Linked DNA regions of Homo sapiens: regions 2, 3, 4 and 5 are each linked to region 1. Evidence: fine-mapped expression QTL. A gene starts in region 1. Each other region holds a variant in brackets. All regions are shown on one strand. Distances are between the middles of the regions.

Evidence for each region.
Region 2: its variant is fine-mapped to the expression of KIRREL3 in whole blood (TOPMed, PIP above 0.99).
Region 3: its variant is fine-mapped to the expression of KIRREL3 in whole blood (TOPMed, PIP 0.98).
Region 4: its variant is fine-mapped to the expression of KIRREL3 in whole blood (TOPMed, PIP above 0.99). The same link has a PIP of 0.9 or more in blood mononuclear cells.
Region 5: its variant is fine-mapped to the expression of KIRREL3 in whole blood (TOPMed, PIP above 0.99).

What each region holds. Positions count from the first base shown.
Region 1 is chr11:126,998,365-127,002,478 of GRCh38, forward strand. It overlaps KIRREL3 (kirre like nephrin family adhesion molecule 3), which reads right to left and starts at 2,406. Exons shown (of 17, transcript NM_032531.4): 1 at 2,091-2,406. The coding sequence starts at 2,145.
Region 2 is chr11:126,437,862-126,441,975 of GRCh38, forward strand. It overlaps KIRREL3 (kirre like nephrin family adhesion molecule 3), which reads right to left. Exons shown (of 17, transcript NM_032531.4): 11 at 2,588-2,688. Among named protein-coding and RNA genes, the nearest start is that of ST3GAL4, 84 kb to the left of the region's middle. The variant G/A (reference allele first, on the strand shown) is at 2,400.
Region 3 is chr11:126,307,559-126,311,672 of GRCh38, forward strand. The region is part of intron 2 of DCPS (decapping enzyme, scavenger); the gene reads left to right. Among named protein-coding and RNA genes, the nearest start is that of TIRAP-AS1, 5.3 kb to the left of the region's middle. RefSeq lists an enhancer at 3,860-3,929. The variant T/C (reference allele first, on the strand shown) is at 2,321.
Region 4 is chr11:126,354,179-126,358,292 of GRCh38, forward strand. ST3GAL4 (ST3 beta-galactoside alpha-2,3-sialyltransferase 4) reads left to right here and starts at 1,508. Exons shown (of 11, transcript NM_001254757.2): 1 at 1,508-1,664. It overlaps GSEC (G-quadruplex forming sequence containing lncRNA), which reads right to left and starts at 1,409. Exons shown (of 2, transcript NR_033839.1): 1 at 1,264-1,409. RefSeq lists enhancers at 400-1,143, 1,144-1,885, 1,886-2,629, 2,317-2,466 and a silencer at 1,347-1,726. The variant C/A (reference allele first, on the strand shown) is at 2,590.
Region 5 is chr11:126,464,350-126,468,463 of GRCh38, forward strand. The region is part of intron 5 of KIRREL3 (kirre like nephrin family adhesion molecule 3); the gene reads right to left. Among named protein-coding and RNA genes, the nearest start is that of KIRREL3-AS1, 77 kb to the right of the region's middle. RefSeq lists enhancers at 1,338-1,397, 1,945-2,494, 2,495-3,042. The variant C/G (reference allele first, on the strand shown) is at 1,568.

The DNA of each region.
Region 1 (4,114 bases):
TACAGGGATGCAGGGTATCTGACCAGCCATGTCCACTTGGGTCTCCTCATTTTTGTTTAGACCTGTTTTCCAGCCTCTGGACCAGGTATCTACCATTTGGTAGGGTGGACAGTGATGGCCAAGCTCAGAACACTCCAGGAGCACAAGGCATTAAGAACTGCATGATGTTATGGTTTCTTCCTAGCGCTCTCAGGACTCGGGGTAGATAAAACAGAGCATTTAACCTCCATAGGTAAATATTTAAAGATTCACATGAAGCAGTCAAGAAACAGCTCCAGACCAAGAAAGAAATAAGCACAACAGAAGATGTACACTGTAATGATTCAGACGGCCAGGGAGGTACTTAGACACCTATAGCCTTCTTATGCCAATCTACATAAGTATCACGGATCAAGCTTCTAACTACACAAAAGGCTGATTAAAGCATGCACTGGTCCCATGCAAATGTGAGTTTGTGTGTTTACGGGGGGTTGGTTGGAAGATTCCCTCCTTCTCAGGGGTTCTATATCAAAACTTCCTGAGTGAACTGGTAAGAAGCAAAGACGAATGGGAGTGTGTGTGTGTGTGTGTGTGTGTGTGTGTGTGTGTGTGTGCTCATAAGCAAGCACATACACATCCAAGAAAGAGGGTAATCTTACCAAATGGTAATATAACTGAACCTGTCTCTATACCAGTGTTCTGAGAGAGTTCTTATTCATTCAGCCTGAAACTCTGGGGAAGGCAATTTATCTTCCTGCTGCTGTAGGGAGCCTTGGTGAGAAGCACACAACCATATGAATACATGAGTGTGTGTGTGTGTGTGTGTGTACATACATTATCATTATACACAGGCATTAGTATGCACATACAAATATGAAGAAGGAGCCCCTTCGGTTTCATCAGGAGGACCAGAAGCAAAGTTTGAACTGCACAGATAAGGAGAAAGTCTGCAGTGACCACAAGCACGGGTGGAAGAGCAGAAGAAGGAAGCCAGGTTTTTGCTTATATTTGGCTTCTCCCCGACAGGGGAGAAACAGAAGACATGCTGTTTGCTTGCAAAGCCAGCCACCCATGGCAGTGCTTTGCTTTCTCGAAAACTTTTACCCTTCATTTAATCAACAGATGGACGTGCTCTGTTGTGGATTTTTTCTGAGTCTTGCACCTCTAAGAGCTGTGTTGGCTGGCACAAATGCAGCCTCAGATGGCAGAGGTGCATTGGCATTCCAAAAGAGCGGGAAGGAGCCCATGTACTTGCCCCTCCAAACTCAATTCCACAGGTGACTTTTGATGCCTTTGGCCAACTAGGCACTCACATTCCCTCTCCCGAATTTCCCTCTCCTTTCTGCACCACTACCAGCCCCAGGGCTCCCAGTGGCAAGGAGCCTAGAGGTGGCAAAGTTCTTTCCGGAGAGTCCACCTGCTTCTCTGCCCCTGCTAGGCTGCAGAAAGGAAACCATCAGCACCACGGGCGAAATTTCATTTTATACCCTGAATTCAGTGCTGTGTAGGATTCAGAATTCAACCTAATTTAGGGAACTCGATGACGTTCAATGAAACTCTTTACAAGCTTTTCCCAACCACTGCAAATTACCCCCCACAATACATTCTGTAATTGCAACCCCCTTTTCAACGGTGCAAACCACACACATTCGCTTTTGAATACACTTGTGCAAGTCAAACCCTATTCAAGCTGAAATATCCACCTAAACCAAGCTCTCCCTCCCTGCCGTCTCCTTCCCTGGCCTGGGTCTGAAGGAGAGGAGGTGCCCAGAAGTTCAGAGCGGCATAACCACAGAGATACTACCTAATTAACATACCAGAAGCATAAAGAACTCATTTGCATTGGAGAGTTTGAGCTGGATATTGACAAGTGAGAGGAGAAAGTCATTCCCCTCCCCTCCCATACCCCTTCTTTCCAAAGGAAAATAAACAGTACCATTTTGTTGCATTCGCAAAGGCGAAGAGGCAATGCCAGAGCATCTCAGCCCGGCACCGAGAGACGCATCCATCAGTCCGAGTTCCCGAAGCCTGCCCACGTTCCTGCCCACAGCCTCCCGCGCCCTGACAACCCAGCCGACTTTCTTCCAACTCCAGCAGCGCAGGGGTCCTACCTTGACTGAAGAGGAAGAAGCAGACGAAGAGCAGATCGAGCTGGAAGGGTTTCATTCCTTAGCGCAGCGAAGGAAAGCCGGCGGGGTAACTTGGCTGTGGTTAGTTTCTCTTCCTTGGCGGCTCTCGGTGCTCAGCCTCCGCCGGTCCTCTCGGGTTCGCGCCTACCATCTGTCCGTCCGTGGGTCCCTCCGGGTGGCTTCGGTCTCTTTGTGCCTCTGGGTATCTGCAGCCAGCCGACACAAACTGCCTGTTCTTAGCCGCCTCGGGAAGCCGGGATTGTCAGCAATGTCCCCACTCGGAGAAGATCCATTCTCTGGCTCTTGGCATCCCAGGCACACGGCTTCCTCAGGCGGGCTCCTCCCACAGTGAGCGAGCGAGCTAGTGACGAGTGACAGAAGGACTCCTTTCACTGAAGCTGAGGCGAGGGGAGAGGGAGGGGAGACAGGTCATAATTAAAGAGGAAACACTCGGAAAAAGGAGATCTATGCAAAACGGACAGTGGGGGAAAAGGCTGTGTTCTTTCTTTTCCCTAAATAGGGAAAAATTCAGCTTTTGTCACCATTATTGACCAAAAGGCATCTTGAGCTTGGAGTGGAGCTGTGACTTTTTGTCCACACGATGTCCTGTTTAACAGTGAAGTTAAGGATGACTATCCACATGCATGTGCACAAAAACATGCACGCCCTGCCTTTGCAAAGGAACTGGAAACTGGGCTGAAAGGGAACTAGGAAGGGGGGGTGCGCATCTTTCCCTCGGAAGGACTTGGCCAATGTGTGCAGCGGGAGGCTCGGAGTTGGAGAAGAGATAAGCATGCTTTGCATTTCTGAGAGTTTCCTGTGGGTGGGTGGGTGGTTGTGGTGGGGGGGGGGGGTAGGTAATAAAACCTGAACATTTGGATCTTAGTTTGCTTTGCACTGCTCCTGGAAGACAAAATGCAGGAACTAAAGGGAAGGCAAGTAGGCTTGTGACACACACCCATTTATTATCATTATCCTGGTTTGTGCATTTCCTAACGAGGACAGGGGAGCAGCCTGTCTTTGCATTCAGAGCCTCTCCTCTAATGAGCGCTCCATCACTCTGAGCCTGTCTTTTCTCCAAGAGGTGCTGTGAGTCCAATTGCAAAGGAGAGGCCAAGGTCATAGACAACTGCGTCCTAAGGATCTTCAAGCCTTTTACCTGTCATGAAATTCACACTCCACACTCAAATCAAACTCGGTTTCCTCCAGGATATCAACATGAATTTATCTGGGTCTATTTACTTAATAGACATTTAGGCATGCTTGGTATAAGCAGGCCATGGAGGGAAGCAAAATAATAGGCACAGACCATGCCTTCAGAAGCTCATAATCTAGTGTGCAAGCAGAGTACACACACAAGATGCAAACTCTAAGGACATAACAAAACAACACAGAAAAATATTCAACGTTATGCACTGTGAGAAGGAGAGGTAAAGAGAGAGGAGAGGAAAATGAAAGACGCTCCCCTGACATGTGCCATTTAGCATTCAATTCTAAAATCAGTCATTACTGTCTTCAGTCCCTGGACCTTGGGGAGGTCTTTTGGGAAACTCTTAGCCTTTCCTCTTTCAGTAGTAGCACATCTTTTGAGGACTCTGCTCACTACAAGGCACATTCCAACTCCAAGTTTCCATGCGGATGTTAACTTTAAAAAATTATCCCTTGGTATTTGTGAACAAGAAAGAAAGAAGCAGGGGCATATAGAAGTGTGCTAGTAGGAGCTGACATCTGGTAGTTGACACCAAAGATCTACAAATTAGTAGGTGTCTGCTTTGTTGACTTTTCTATTCTTAACTTAATAGTTTATTTAACTGCATCCCTTAGAGGCTGTTAAACACAGCAAAGGGAAATTTGTAAGCAAACTTTGGGAGGAGAAACAGAAATGTTGAGCAACAGAAACTAAAAGGACACAAAAGAGGCAGCCCATTAGCTAAATTAACAAACAAGTTACTGAAGCAGTGTCAGCTGAGCCTGAGTCCATTAGCCTGGTGTAACAGATCATGCAA
Region 2 (4,114 bases), 560 kb before region 1:
ACTTACAGGTACACACACTATGACATACACACACACCATGTGCTCACACACACAAGTACACACACTACCAACAGATACACATGTTCACACATGCCATGACACATGTACACGGTAACACACCCACACCACACATGTACACAATCCACAAACACATGTACACACACATACTCTGGGGCATCCTCAGAGGGTCTTTCCATCCCAGAAAGGGGCCTGGGGAGCATCTTTCTGGGCAAAGTGGGTGCCCTGTTGGCCTGCGCACTGCGCCTCCACACAAATGCCCCCCGGGACTGTGGCTGCCTGGGTGGGTGTGAGTTAGGACAGCAGCCCCATGAACGCGTCTACCTGTGTGATGTTGTATGTCTGTGTGAGAAATGTGTCTACAGAGCTGTGTTTGCGATCACCTTCGTCTGCCTTAGTTTACAGGGCTGCTGGTTAACAGTTTTCAGAGCCGGCCACATACACTGTCTGCACCTCATCGTGTAAGCGCCTCGTATATCCTGGTTCGGGGCTGATGAGAGGGACTGAGTTTCTCAAGCTTGCTGCTATTGTCACGCTGGACTGACCCATTCCTGGCCGTGGGGCTCTCCCAGGCATTGCAGGATGTCAGCAGCACCCTGGCCTCTACACACCCGGTGCCAGGAGTATCCTCCAAGTGATGACAACCAAAATGTCTCCAGGCACTGCCAAATGTCCCCTGGGGCCAGTGAGAACCGCTGGCCTAGAATCAGATATTTCTGGAGAGAAGGTGTGAAAATGTCCAAGAGTGAATGGAATATTTGACAATGAGCATGTGTTACATTTATAATTAAAAACATCAAAAAGCAAAGTGAATGGGGAGGCGTAGGTATTAGTTTTATTCATGAGTTCTTGCAATTTTTTTGTGAATCTTTCAGACAGTGAATGAACTGAATGCTTGAGAAAGCGTGTAGCAGCAATAATACTCTAATAATATCTTAGTTAACAGGATGACAGTTTCAGTTGGTGCAGCCTGGGTGTCTCAGCCCCCGCATGCACGGGTTAGGGGTGACCTCAGCTGCTTCACATCTGGGCCAGCCCCACCCTCCCTGCACAACTGCCCTGCCCACTCCACCCCTGGACAGTCTTCTAGCAGGATTTTGCCATACACTGGGAATTACTACAAATAAGTTTTCCCCGAGTAGTGCTATAAAATGCTCACTTTTCTTTGTTTTCATGCCTGAGATCCCTCCAGTTTTAGATGGATTTGAGTACAAGACTCTGCCCCTGGATCACCTGAGGTCAGGAGTTTGAGACCAGCTTGGCCAACATGGTGAAACCTTATCTACTAAAAATACAAAAAAATTAGCTGGGTGTGGTGGCAGGTGCCTGTAATCCCAGTTACTTGGAAGGTTGAGGCAGGAGAATTGCTTGAACCCAGGAAGTGGAGGTTGCAGTGAGCCAAGATTGCACCATTGCACCCAGCCTGGGTGATAGAGAGAGACTCTGTCTCAAAAAAGAAAGAGGGAAAAAAAGACTCTGCCCTCACCTTAATTTTTTTGTTGTTGTTGTAGAGACAGGGTCTCACTATGTTGCCCAGGCTGGTCTCAAACTCCTGGGCTCAGTCGATCTTCCCACCTCAGCCTTCCAAAGTGCTGGGATTACAGACATGAGGCTCCTGCTCAGTAAGACCCTCCCTTTAAAAAAATGCAGATACTGGCTGGGCATGGTGGCTCACGCCTGTAATCCCAGCACTTTGGGAGGCTGGGGTAGGAGGATCGATTGAGCCCAGGAGTTTGAGACCAGCCTGACCAACATGGTGAGACCCCATCTCTACTGAAAATACAAAAATTAGCGAGGTGTGGTGGCAGATGCCTGTAATCCCAGCTACTCAAGAGGCGCTGAGGCATGAGAATTGCTTGAACTGGGAGGTGGAGGTTGCAGTGAGCCGAGATTGTGTCACTGCACTCCAGCCTGGGTGATAGAGCGAGACTCCATCTCAAAAAACAAACACAAACAAACAAACCCAAAAAACACACAAACAAAAAAACCAAGCAGATAGCTGGTAGGAGGCGCTGAGGGTGGACTCCTCAGTTGCCTTAGCTGCATTGCAGGGATAAGTTCTTTGAGGAAGGGAGAGAGAATGGAATGGTCACTTTAGAGGGGACGATTGATAGGCAACAGGGCAGGCTACCATGGACAGTAAAGGCCACAGAGACCTGGCAAGGAGGGCTCCAGGAGGCACAGAAAGGGGTTGCCAACTATTACCTGCGCTCTAAGATTTTGCTAAAGACTGGCCTGGAGCCCAGGAAGAGAAGAAGTCACTTGTCTTTTCTCTCCACTACCCTCGTGTGCCCCTCTGCCCTTAGGATGCGGAATTTGGTCAGAGCCGTTCATGTCAGAGCTCAGCAGAATGGCAGCTGAACCCTGGGAGAGCACTGCCT[G/A]TTCTGAGAAAGGCCTGCAATTGTGTCTTCACGATGCTTTTCCAAGACAGCCAAGGCAGGTATAATTTTCCTCAGCAAGAAAGAGGAACCTCGGAGGTGTGCACCGCCTGGCTGGCCACCCAGGTATTGGCAAAAGTGACTGTTGGGCTGCTGGCCCGGCCCCCGCCCGCCGTCCCTGGAGCACTCACGATGCGGTCCGGCGGCGGCGTGCTCCGGATGAAGCACTTGATCTGGCCCTTCTCGCCGTGGAGGGCGTGCTGGGTCTGGGTGCTGGAGATGATGGGGGGTCCTGTTGAGAAACAGCGTCCCATTAGGCACCCGGGAAGGGCACGTCCCTGCTGGCGCCCTCTTGGGTGGGTTCAGAAGTGTATTCATTAATCCAAGCATTCAGCAAACATTTGCCGAAGGCCTGTATGTGCAAGGTAAAGTGCAAGGTAGAGGACTCAGAGATAAATTAGGCATTCAGTCATAAACCTCTCAAGGGATCATGAGCGAATGCTTCTAAGTCAGAACCCCCAGAAGATACAAATAACTGTAATAAAAGGTGGTGAGTGTTAGTACCACAGGAGCGGTGCAGATAAAGTGCTAACCGACTTCAGAGGAGAGAGAATAATTCTATCTGGCGGACGGGGAAAGCTTTAGGGAGGAGGTGGTAAGCCTGCAGAGGGGGTGGGGAGGTGTCTAGATGAAGGAAGACTCCCCCGCCTCAGCCAGCGGCACCCCTGCGAGCCATTCCTCAGATATCCAGTAGAGGGCGCCCTTGCCTAACAAATGGGAGCTGCTCGGCCAGACGGGCCAACGGGAAGAAATGGTTGCTGTCCCTCTCCTTAGGGCGGGAATCACCCCGGACAGGGGGAATGCATGCGCTGGCCGTGTTCACAGCCCTCCTCCCACCTGTGTCTCAGGAGGTCCTGCAGTTCATCATCTTGTCTGCCTCCACGTCCATACCCAGACTGCCCAAGTGAGGCCATGGCTCCCAAACTGACCCCAATATTATCATATCACAGAGTGTGGCACATGTTTATGGGTGTCAGGTTCTGAGAGCGCCTGTCTCATTCACCACATTGCACAGCCAAGAGAGTTCACCTGGTGGAGGGGAGCCTGTTCCCCAGCGCCTCCTGTCCAGTTCCGCCTGTTACCTAACCCAAGTCTTTCCCCTGTGACGCCTGCCTGGCCGTGAAAGACAAAAGAAGGAGCAGCTAGCTTAGCCTGGGCTCTGCTGGCTTCCTGGCTGGGCTGGGTGGTTGAAGGATGGGAGTAGGGACGGAAACTGTCATGCTCCCTTTCCAATCCCTGGGGTCACAGTTGGGACTTAGATGGCAGATACCAGAGGAAAGACAGCCGGGAGCAACGCATCTGGAGAACACACAGAATTATGCAGGAACAAAACAAAAATTGCTGCAAACATAATTGCTGTTTATTAGCCACCTTAATTAAAGCAGATTTGCATTTCTATGAGTAGCTCTCAGCCAAGGGAGAAAAGGTACTGTAGACACTCCAGTGACTTCTGTTGAGTTTGAGAAGGCAAAAGGGCTCGGGGCAGCGTGAGGTGGGCGTGGGGGACCCTCCATGGCTTTAAGAATGGGCTGAGCGCTGCCCTCCTTCCTAAAAATCCTTCAGCTCCAACAGGTCTAGGACCCAAAGAGATGAGGAGATTGATGTTTTAGGAACCGGATGGTGCTTTGTTTTATTGCTGGACTAAAACGTGATGATAA
Region 3 (4,114 bases), 690 kb before region 1:
CACCACCACGCCTGGCTAATTTTTGTATTTTTAGTAGAGTCAGGGTTTCCATCATGGCCAGGCTGGTCTTGAACTCCTGACCTCGTGATCCACCCGTCTTGGCCTCCCAAAGTGCTGGGATTACAGGTGTGAGCCACCGTGCCCAGCCAGAATAATAGATTAATCTACTAATTGAATGATAAAAATTGTCAACAACACTTAGGAAATCCTTACTATTGTATCTACATGTATTAACACAGTTAATCCTCAAAACAGCCCTCTTGTAAGGAGGACTTTACGAATGAGGAAACCGGTTTTTGAAAGGTTAAATAACTTGTCCAAAATCACACAGCCAGTAGGTGGCGGGAAAGCTAAGGTTTTTCAGTAGACTGGGGTCTTGCTCACCATACTCATTCTGTGGGCCGGCCAGTGTGTCTGGTGCTGCAAAAATCAGTCACTTCCCTGAAGGAACCTACTTTCTGGTGGGAGAGACAACTAGTGAGATCAAGGGGGATGGGAGAGAAGGGCAAGAACTCGTGGGTTAAAAGGCAGAGATTTGTTTTTCATTGCAAGCATTTCTTAATTTATTAAAAAGAATATTCCATGCCAAAAGCCAGGTGTGACATGTGCATTTTTTCTCAAGATGGTTAGATTTTGTAGGCAGCTTTGTTGGAAACATGAGTGAGACTGGTTGACCTTAAAGATTCCTTCCAACCAGCAAATTCTGGAATTTGTTTTACAGCACATGGTGACTTTGTCATATCCTTCTGTCTTCTTGTTTGCCCTCCAGCATTTAAGAGCGGTCTGGCTTTGCAGATATCTTGCCCCACAGTCTTTTGATAGATATTCTTTTCTGCCCTCCATGAAAGGGTGCTATTGTTGTCCTTTGGAAATATGTGAACACTTCATGGTGAGACAAGCAAACCTTTCATGACTTAATGCAAAACAGCCTTGTCTTCCATTGAGCAAAAGCCAGATTAATTGGTGCAAGTTGATGGAAATGGACAGCTGTATTTCCTTTCTCAGGCAGTGACGTTTAAGCAAATGTATTCCTCAGCACAGGGCGGCAGAAGAATGACAGAAGGCACCGTGGCCAAACACAACTTGGGGTGGCCCCCTGCATTGCAGGCTCTAGGGGCTATTATTTTACTGCCACACCCTTTCCCTCACCTTCCGAAATCCCTCTACCCACCCTCCCCACCCTTGGCCAAAATTCAGAAGGTTCTGCCCGACAGATGAACCCTGTGGAATTCACAGGCTGTCCTTTTTATTTTCCCAGTCCTTCTGTGGCATTGCACACAAGTGGAGGTAGTCCCTGCTCGCCCTTTCTGTTTCTATTGTTTTTCCCAAGATAAGCACTGAAAGAGGCAGTGGGTTATTGGCCCACCACAAGTCCTTGTTCCCACTCAGAACCCCAGGTGTCTCCAGGGCCACCCCCACCCACCTGGGAGCCTCAGATGTTAGTTCATCTTTTCTTTTCCTGCCCCTTTTTTTTTTTTTTTTTGAGATGGAGTTTTGCTCTTGTCACCCAGACTGGAGTGCAATGGCACGTTCTTGGCTCACTGCAACCTCCGCCTCCCAGGTTCAAGTGGTTTTCCTGCCTCAGCCTCCCGAGTAGCTGGGATTTACAGGCACACACCACCACGCCCAGCTAATTTTTGTATTTTTAATAGAGATGGGGTTTCACCATGTTGGCCAGGCTGGTCTCGAACTCCTGATCTCAGGTGATCCAAAGTGCTGGGATTACAGTTACAGGCATGAGCCGCTGCCCCTGGCCTTCCTGCCTTCTTGGTATATAAGTCATCCCTCAGTATCCACTGGGGATTGGTTCCAGGACTCTCCTTGGATACTAAAATCTGTGGATGCTCAAGTCCCTGATATAAAATGGTGTAGTATTTGCATGTACCCTAAGCACATCTCCTGCCTGCTACAATGTAAATGCTATGTAAATAGTTATTATACCATGTTTTTTAGGTAATAATGACAAGAAAAGTCTGTACGTATTCAATACAGACGCAATGTCCTTCTTTTTTTAAGTATTTTTATTCTTCATTTGGTTGAATCCACAGATATGGAACCCACAATACGGAGGGCCGACTGTACATGCGGTGCCTTTCGCTCCTGCTTTTCCTACCAAAACTAGGGATGGGGATTTGGAAGTCGCAGCGGTTTGCTTCAGGGCCCGGTTGCTCCCTTGTTTAGCTGCATAGCTTTTCCCTGGGTGATATTTGAGGTCAGGATTGTCAAACTTTTTCTGTCAAAAACCAAAGAGTCAATATTTTAGGCCTTGTGAGGCACAAATGGTCTCTGTCTCCTCTTCTTCTTTTCCTCCCATCTTCCT[T/C]CCCAACCCCTTCTTCTTCTGCCTTTTCTGCCTTCTCCTTCCTTCTTCTTTTTCTCAACCCCTGTGAAAATGAAAATATCACTCTTGGTTTGCTGATTGTACAAATAGAGGTCCAGCTGGCCATAGTTTGTTAACCTCTGTTCCAGATTTTTACCACTCAAAGTGTGGTTTGTGAACCAGCAGTATTCGCACCACCTGGGAGTCTGGTAAAACAGAATCTCCTCCCCATTTCAGACTACAGAATCACTGGAGTCTGCATTTTAGCACAACTCCCTGGTGAGCCATATGCACGTAAAACTTTGAGAGGCACTGGTCTTTAAAAAAACACCATCTGTATGCCGGCGACGCCCACCTTTATTTCTCCATCCTTGACCTCTCCAAGAACTCCGGGCTCATATTGAAATAAAGCCCTCCTTGACATCTCCATTTGGAGGTCTCATAGGTGCAATTCAAGAATCCGATGCGCTAATGTACTTAAAAGCACTGAGCACAATACTAAGTAGTAGCTGCTGTTATTAGTCTCATGTGCCAGGCCCTATGCCGCGTACCGTAGCTTCAGAGATGAGTAAGATACCATCCTTGCCCTCACAGTCTTGTTTGGGGTCAGGGGTGGGGACATAGTGGTGAAAAGAGGAGAGTTTGGTCACTGCCTGGATATAAGGGGTGAGGTCCTCGAAGGTTGGAGCCATGTCGCCCATATTAGGTGCTTTCAATAAGTGAAGAATGAACCCACAAACTGACCTATGTGTAGATTTGTTTTCCTGTGGGCTGGGCATTCCACAGCCACAAGGTGGCAGCATTGCCAAAATAGTCCTGTGGCCCACTCCAGCTGTCCCCTCTGTGGGAAGGCCAGCTAAGTCAGAGCCTGGGACCTCCCTCTCCAGTCCCAGCCTTGGAGTCAACTCAATGCTGCCCACCCCGAGGGCCCTGAATGTGCAGTTCCTGCAGCCTCAGCCCTCTGTCCCCCTGCATGGTTGTGCCTTTGAGTTTTTCTGCTGTCTCTGGCTGCTTCTTTAGACCTCCTTCCTAGAATACTGTTTGCCTAGGGGAGCCCCCACCCCTCATTTCTGAGCTGGCCACAGTAGAAATCATGGGCTCAGCTGATTTTTTTCTGGTATTCCTCTGGTCACTGGCAACTTTCTTTTCCTCTTCAAGTCTGGAGGTTTTGCAGTCTCCTCATTCGTTTATCCCCTCCACGTTCTCAGCTGACTGCAAGAGGCTGCTCGTGTGAGCCACTCATCCTTCCAGCTGCAATGTCCATCCCAACGACATAATGGAGAGAGCATGGGCTTTAGGAGTTAGTCATGCTGGGGCACTCATGCTTTCTCATGGCATGCACTGGGGCAGCAACATGCTGTTTCTGAGTTTTAGCACAGTGCCAGTGCTGAGAACAAGCCTCACGTCAGGCAGACCTGGGTGCGAATCCTGGCTTTGCCATTTGCTAACCATGAGGACCTGGGACATTTCTTTATTCATTTAACAAATGTGAAGTGTCTGCTATGTGCCAGCTACTCTAGTAGAAGCAAGGTCTGTGTTGGTGAAGATAACCGATGTCTCCCTGTCTTTGCAGTTCTAGTGGGGAAGGCAGACAGCAAACAAGGAAGCAGATGTCTGAGTGGCCATGAGCAGGAGAGAGCCTACTCAGACCAGGGCTCTAGGAGGGCTCTCTGCAGTGGAGCTGACACCCAGGCTGAGGCCTGAAAGATGGGAAGAAGCCAGCTGTGCAAAGAGGGGAGAACACTCTGGGCTGAGGAATAGCACGTGTTCTGGGGATGGAAAGAAGAACAGAAATGA
Region 4 (4,114 bases), 640 kb before region 1:
GGGCGGATCATAAGGTCAAGAGATCGAGACCATCCTGGCCAGCATGGTGAAACCTCGTCTCTACTAAAAATACAAAAATTAGCTGGGCATGGTGGCACGCGCCTGTAGTCCCAGCTACTCGGGAGGCTGAGGCAGGAGAATCACTTGAACCCGGGAGGCAGAGGTTGCAGTGAGCCAAGATCACGCCAGTGCACTCCAGCCTGGCGACAGAGCGAGACTCTGTCTCAAAATAATAAATAAATAAATAAATAAATAAATAAATAAATAGTTGTTGAATGCATGTCTGACTGATTAAGCCAAAGGCACCATATTCAAACAAAATCAGACACTGGTGCAATGCCAAACAGCTTCTGCCCGTGCAAGGAATGATTTAGCATGGAGCACAGTCACCTGCAGAGGAACAACTTGGAGGCAGACTCTCCTTACTCAGCTCACTTGGAGCAGAGCTTCCTGAGTTGGGGGTTCTTGACAGATAAGCCCTCCAGCTTCAGCAGAAGCAGGCTTGGAGCTGCCACTTCTCTGAACCCCCTTGCACTTACTGTCAGTCACTCACACCTTGCACTTATTCACATCCTATCCTGCCTCGTTCTTGAATGGAGTCCATGGTGAGCCTTCTCTGTGCCGCTGGATGGTAAGCTTCCTGGGGACAGGGAATGGGTCTGATAGTTTCCTTGGAGCCCCTGGCGCTCCCGGCACTGGGCTGTTGATACGTGGGGCTCCGGAAACACTGTGCTGACCTGTGAAAGGGACTGGCCTAAGGGGCTGTGGATTGTCCTGTAGGGTGACTTCTGAACTGTTCTTCAGCCTGGGCAGTTCCCAGGTTTATTTGGGGGGATGCCTGGGTCCAAAGAACCAGGGTCAGGGGCCCAGGGGTTTCTTCCTGGAGACAGGATGCCTGGCGCCTTCAATAACGGAAAGGAAACTGAGAAACTTTCTGAGGCCAAGATAAAGAGTATGCAAGTGAGGGGTGCAGAGAGAGCAGTTTAGGGGCAGCAGGCCCCAACCGAAGCAGAGGAAGGGCCCACGTCTGGGCCCAGGGGACTGACTGGCTGCCTTGCGTGCATGGGGCACGGGAAGCATAGGCTCCCGGAACAGGACCCTGCCCCAGTTTCCCCAGTGAGGGAAGGACACCGTTCCCCGTGGGATAGAGCACTGCACCCTTTCTTGATTCTCATTGTTCCCGGGAGCGAGCGCCTTGGCTGCGCTGGGCATACCCACCCTGGCGCCATTCACAGGCAGTGCCTGCCCTGGCCCTGTGCTCACCCCATCAGGCCTCCTCTTCCGCCTCTCTGGCACCCACGGCGCCCCTGCTTGCCTCTGTCCGGGTCTCGGAGGCGCGAACACCATCCCAAGCCTGCGACCGCGCGGCATCACCCCCGCCCTTCCCCCTCCTCCACCCCGCCCTTTCTACCCCTCCCGGGAGCTCCTGGGAGTCGGGCCGCCGTGTGCGCAAGCGTGTCCAGCCCCTTCCCCGCCCCCAACCCGGGCCCGGGTCCCCGCCTCCCCTGCAGGCGGACTCGCCCGCTCCCAGGCCGGACCCGCGCCCGGGACAGGGACCCGGCCGAGTCGAGCCGTCGCGCCAGCGCTGCGCCGCCGGTCGGTGCGCCTAGCGGATCGGAGCTGCGCGCGGAACCGTGCTGCCCCGCCCCGCTCCACCCGTGAGGGTGAGTACGCGGCGGCGGTGCGCGGGGGCCCGCGGGGCGGGGCGGGGCGGGGAGCCGCGGGGTCCTCGGCCGCCTGACCCCAGCCGGCGCCGCGCCTCCCGGAGGGGGTCGGGCCCTGCACGTGGGCGCAGCGCGGGTCGGGGTGGGGCTGCCACAGCCCTGCGGAGCTGCTTTCCGGGGTCCCTTTCCCTGGACCAGATTTTCGCGGGAAGCCGGATCCTCTCCGTTCCCTTGGAGTGAGCAAGCGGGACAGTTCTGCGGAAAGTTTCCGCCCCCAATCCCCCAGCCCTGCGCCCGGACTGAAGCGGCGGCCCCCACCTCCAGCATCCTCGAGCGATGGTTTCTCCCACAACTACCCCGGTCAGGTCCAGCACTTGGGAGCTGACTGTGCTGGAGGTGACAGGCTTTGCGGGGTCCGCCTGTGTGCAGGAGTCGCAAGGTCGCTGAGCAGGACCCAAAGGTGGAGTTGTCAGTGGGAGGCCGGCTGTGCCCAGGGTCCTAGGGCCACGTTATGGGGGTCGTCAGGCCTAGGCCACTGTGCCTCAGGGCTGCATGGGTGGTGAGCAGTGGGAGGGATGCGATGGGGGGAGTGGGCTCAGCTGTCTGCTGTGGGTGTTTCCTCGGGGACCTGGCTGGCAGGGACCTCCCGGCCAGCCCAGAACTGCCAACATGTCTGCCAGCACTGCCCCTCCATTCCCAGTCCTGGGGGGAGGCTCTGTCTGGGCAGCTTGAGGCCTGACCTACTGTGGCTGCTTCCTCTGCTCCCCAGCCTGGGTCCTGAGGGCCTGGCTTAAGGGAACTGCTGCCAGAAGGCTGGGAGTGTAGGCAGTGTTCGGGTGCCCAGCTGTGCCCTGTCTGACCTCATGGCCACCCACAAGCTGGCACCCCCCACAGGCCTCTTGGGGAAGCCTGTACTTTCCACCGC[C/A]GGAGGCGGGTACCGCGTGGAAGCCAGGCTCAGGCGGACTCATTCTTTTTGAACTTTGGGAACAGGCCTGGTACAGGCTGAGTTCTCACAAGAGACACACACCCGTGTCACTGTCTCCTGAGCTGTGCCGGACCCGTCCTACAGACTCCACCTCCTCTAGGTCCTGGCCCTGGCATCTGCCAGGGGGATTTTAAATGAGTTGATATATGCTAAGTGCTTTGAAAGGCGCCTGCACGGAGGGAGAGCTGTATAAATATTCACTATTGGTAATATTTCTCCCATGCTGTTACTCTCCAAAGCTGCCCGATAATTCTAGAGTGGGTTCCGGGGACGTGCCCGCTGTTTGGGGCCTAGAAATGAACTCGGGAGGTTGTTTTGCTTGCTGAGAGCTGGTCTGGGAATGCCCCTTGACCGTTCCCTGCCCTGCTCCTGGCCCACTCCCAGACTGCTCCTGTGCCTGGCCCCATTGCGCTGGGTGGGTGATCCTAAGCTGCCCCATGGGCCCTGGGCTCTGTCAAGACATGGGGAGCTTGCCAGGAGTTGGGGCCAGATCCCCCAGACTCCAAGATGGTAACCGAGGTTGTGAGGGTGCACATGGAAGGAAGAGTTAGAAGAGTGAATTGGAAATTGCCAGCTTGGACTTTGGGCAGAGTGGGTGTCTTTAGCTTGGGGATGGGTTGTTGTTCAGAGACAACAGGGCCGCCTTCTCTGTGAGCTGGCGGCCCAGGCTGAGGTGCCTCTGGGCTGCCTTCCCTACGGGAAGCAGTGACTGGCCCTCTGCTTCTCAGGAAGAGAGTGCCGTGCCCCCGCCAGCCTCCCAACCTCGTTAGACTCCTAGAATCCGGTTTTCTGGATAGAACTAAGAATCTGCTCCTTTCTGGACTTTTAATCCTGGAAAGGGCTCCCTTCCCCAGCAGGAGCAGAGAGACCAAACCCCCTTTCTGTGCTCCATCTTGAGCTGTCATTCTGTCCTAACTCCCCACTGGCCACCATCTGCCCTTGCTTTGGGGGCTACCCCAGGTCTGACTTGGGCACGTTCTCTGGGTCTCTCCTCAGAGAGGCTGCTCCTGGGGTTGTCCCAATGGAATTGGGAATTCTTCTCAGAATGGCTCAAAGGTTTGCACCATCTGTTGGAGGGAAGGGATCCCTCTATCTTGGACTAATACAAATGTTTCCGTGCCTGCCAAGTTCCAGACCCTGGGCCGATAGGGAAAGGAGCTGGCTGGGGGGCCTGCAGGGGATGGAGAGGGAGCTTGGGCCCCAAGTGGGGTCTGAAGTCCAAGCCTACAGATTGCCATCAAGGCAGCCGCTAGAGCCTAGCCCAGCTCCTGGCCCCTCGGAGATGGACCTTAGATGCTGGAGAGCGGGGCAGTCCAGCAGTGCAGGGTGGGACACCCCGAGCAAACAGCCCCTGCTTCCTGCCCCCTCAGTTCAGTCGCACTGGGCCGGCTGGACGTTTCCCTGCAACAGGCCCCTGCTGGTGGTTTAGCTCCCGCTCCGTGTTTCCCTCACGCTGGGATCCTCC
Region 5 (4,114 bases), 530 kb before region 1:
AAAAAAAAAAAAAGAAAAAAATTAAAAAAAAATTAGCCAGGCATGGTGGCTTGTGCCTGTAGTCCCAGCTACTTGGGAGGCTAAGGTGAGAGGATCACTTGATCCCGGAAGGTTGAGGCTGCAGTGAGCTGAGGTTGTGCCACTGTACTCCAGCCAGGGCCACAGAGTGAGACCCTGCCTCAGAAGAAGAAGAAAAAGAAAAAGAAAAAGAAGAAGGAGAAGGATAAAGAGAAAGTGAAAGAGAAGAGGAGGAGGAGGAGAAGAGGAGGATGAGGAGAAGACAGAGAGAAACAGAGAAGGCCAGGTGAAGGTGGAGGCAGAGATTGGAGGGATGCTGCCACAAGCCAAGGAATGCCAGGAGCTGCCAGGAGCTGGAAGAGGCAAGGAAGGATTTTCCCCTGGAGCCTTTGGAGGGGCACAGCCCTGCTGACACCTTGATTCCAGACTTGTTGGCTTCTACAGCTGTGAGATAATTGATTTCTGTTGTGTCATGCACCGAATTGTGGTGCTTTGTAATGGCAGCCCTAGGAAGCAAACCCATCTTAACTGCTGGTCTCCCACCTTCCCAGGTCATTGCTTTTCTCTACTGGGCCACAATGTCATTCCGAAGCTAGTTCCCCATTGTGGCTGCTACCTCCTTCCCTCTCCTGTTCCTCTTTGCAGCTACTTCCCCATCACTTTGGGGCGCACTAAGTCAGGTGCACCCCGGGGAGGGTGTGCTGAGTGTGTGTGGGGGTGCACTTCCAGGTTGGGATTGGGGTCTGGTCAGTATGCAAAGGCTTCTGCTACTAGGAGGTACTAGGAAGGAACCTCACTATGGGTGCAGTCCTGTTTCCCCCGACTGGAGCCAGGGAGTAGATGAACAGACCACTCCTCCCTCAAAACCTCCCATAAAGTGACAATGGCAATGTCTCTAATTCTTATGAGGGCCCCGGAAGACAGCAGCATTATCTTTGATTAGCCAAAGAGAAACCTGTGTTCCAAGTGAGCCGGGAACTTGCTGGGTGGAGCTAGGATTTGCACTTAAGAATGGGTGAACCCTGAGCCACAGCCTCTGCTGCAGCCCCGGGGGTGCTGGACGGTGGGTACCGTGCTCTTGGCAGGACAGATGGGAACAGTTAGGGCCACAGGGAGAAACCTGTAAGCTCCTAGAACCCCACATTCTGGGTCCTTAATTCAGTGAGGTTTTTCTCAACTTGGGGCAAACCTCGTGGCGTCAGGAGAACAGGGCCAGAGCCTCTATATAGAACAGCACATCTTGCTGGAGGCAAAGCCGGACTGTGACATTCTAGAGAGCCACGCGGTGCAGCTGCAGGCCTGGGACTCAGGGTGCCAGCCACGGCCCTGGGCAGAGGGGCTGGAGGAGAGTGACGTGGCCAGATGCAGCAAGCCGGGGGCAGGACCACTGCAGAGGAGTGAAGTTGAACCCCAAGCCAAAGCCCGGGCAGGGAGGGAGCAGCAGCTGGCACCGCTTTACCACCCTGCCTTGGGCTCTTCAGCAGACCTCATCGAGTCTATAAATAGCCAAGTGATAATAAGAACAATTTCCTGGATGAAACTAAGACTT[C/G]GGGTAGGGCGCGCAGGGGCGGGGAGGTGGTGAGGAGCAGGTTGGTATTCTTCTTCTCTTCTTTACATTTCCGTTGTGCTAACAAGGGACATTTACATAAGCTTGACTCTGCCAGGAGCCCTTCCAACGGATGGGCTCTGGGCGGTGGGTGCCAGTGGCAGGGGAGGGAGGGGACCCAGCTCTAATTAGGCCCTCTGACTGCTCCCCCTCCTCCCTGCACCCAGCGTGCTCCTCCGCCTCGGAATGATGATTAATGACATATTTACTGGGTCCAGGCGTGTGCTTTTCTGGGAAATAAAAATTCTGGTTCAAGTTGTTTGTTCCACCTAATTAGAGAAAAAGGGAGATGTGTTCATTAAACAAAAGGAGGGTGAGGGGAAGGCACGTGCCCCAGCACCAACACCCTCTCTGTCCCCGTGGAAGGTCCCAGCACCTCCTGGGCCCCTAGCTCGCGGGGGACCCCAGGCCCCGTGCAGCGGGTATCCCAGGGAGGAAGGCTGGGTCTGCCAGCTCTGCTGCAGGACGACTGAGGGGAGGAAGGTGGGACAGAGCTGGGGGGCCCAGGGGGAAGGCTGGAGGGAGCCCTGCACCTGCAGGACAGGGCGGGATGTGGAGGGGCACGGGGGATCTGCACCCCCGGGTTTCTCTTCCCCCATTCCTTTCTGATCTCGCCTCTCTTGTTTCTTTTGCTTCACTCCTTTTCAGAAATGAATCTCCCCTAATTGTCACTTTTCTCATATGCAAATGGAGCCTCTGGACTTTGCAGCCTTGAAGGTACTGTCCAGGAGAACATTCTATCATCTGCAGGTTCTAGTCGCAGCTCCACTCCGCCCCTCCCTTCCCTGCTTCCCTTCACTGAGCTTGGCTCTGGGGACACACCATGGGCATTGAACCTCCCACCTCCTGCTTCAGAAAGCTTCATGCCTTGCAGGTGAGCTCCAGAAGGAAGTGAGTTATTCATGGTGGGCCACTCACTGTGGGAGCCACCGCCTCCAAGGCCTCCCTCCAGTGTGGTGAGCACTAACGTGCTGCCAGCCCCCGGCTCGCCCAGGTTGCCCATGTGACTGCCATGGTGGCTCCCAAGAGTCCCCGAGGACCCAGCTCCTGTGTGTGCAGATATGGGCCAGGGGCAGGCATATAGATGGCGTGTGTGCAGCATGTGTCCGGGAACGAGCGTGCCAGGGCATACACCCCCGTGGGTATGTGCGCGTACCTGTTTTTGTCTTTGGGTGTTCATGGGCCTCTGTCCACTGACTGCCGTGACTCTGCGGGGCCCCAGGTTCTCTCTGGACGCTGCCTGCTCAGGTGCCGCCTCAGGGCTGTGCACCCACCCCCACTGCCCCTCCCTAAGGGCAGGGATTTGGCACTCACTTCTCTAGTTCCCCAGCACCGGCCTGGGAGGCCGGTCTTCCCAGGTATGGTTGTACACAGTGTACCCCACCCCATGGTTTTCCTGCTTGGGTGGCAGTGGCTGGCCACTCTGCTCTTTCCAAAGCCCCCAGGGCCTCCTCTGGGCAGTGGAGAGCCAGGCTGAGCTCTCGGAAATGGGTGGGCTGGAGGGCAGACAAGGGGTGGGGGCCCAAGCACTGGTGCTAAATATGGGGTGCCCGATGACAGGCAAACCGTCTGGAAAGGCCGAGAGTAGCCTGATTGCCTGGCAGCAAGGCCGCCTCGCTTCTCCCCGCTACTCACCTTCCCCACCTGCTGGGTCCCTTTTTTTTTTTTTTTAAAAAATCATGGCTCTGCTTCCCCTTTTGATAGCTGCTTGGGGCTCCCCATGGGCTGGTTGCCACCTGGCTTGAATAAGGGTGTGTGGGCCAGGTGGAGGATGCGCAGTGCTTTTTGCCCCAGTCCCTGCATCCAGCCTTGAGGCCAGAGGCCAGAGGGGTGCCCTTCACAGAGAAGGCCAGGATGAGCCTCGGCCACACCCAGTGGAGACTCTAGGCCCCTAAGCTGGGCAGATAGGTGCAGGGTGATGGGTGAGTGACCAGGGAGGGGGTGCCCAGTGGAGGGTGAGGGCCCTATGCATGTGGGCACTTATCCCTTTCCTGAGTGGGGTCTCCAGAGCTCCTCTTAGCAAAGGTGGTAAAAGGCGAGGCCAGTGGTCCTGGTGGTAGGGGTAGAGGGCAAGGGGCTCCAAGCAGACACAGACACGACTGTGCGTGCTAAGACCTTGCAACCCTCCTGCCTGGCAGGAAGCTGCACTTAGGAAGGGTTCTTTCTGGGCTCAGCCTGTCCTCTCGCCCCTCCTCTTCCGTAACCCATCCTTCCTCCCCTGCTGTGTGGACTTGGGGGCTTTCCAGAAGAAAGAATGTGGTCTCCACTCTGGCGCCAGGCCCTCAGAAGTATGAGGAACAGGGAAGGAACCCACTGTCCCCAGACAGCCCAGGGTTGAGTCTCCAGGAAGAAGCTTGGAGGGGCCTTTTCCTGCTCTGTGCCTCTGCAGCCGACACCCGCTGGGAGCCTGCAGTGGGCACTGCCCAAGGCCCCATCCGGCAGTGTGGCTCGCCCTGCACCCTGGAGGCTGTGACAGTGGCCTGTTAAGGA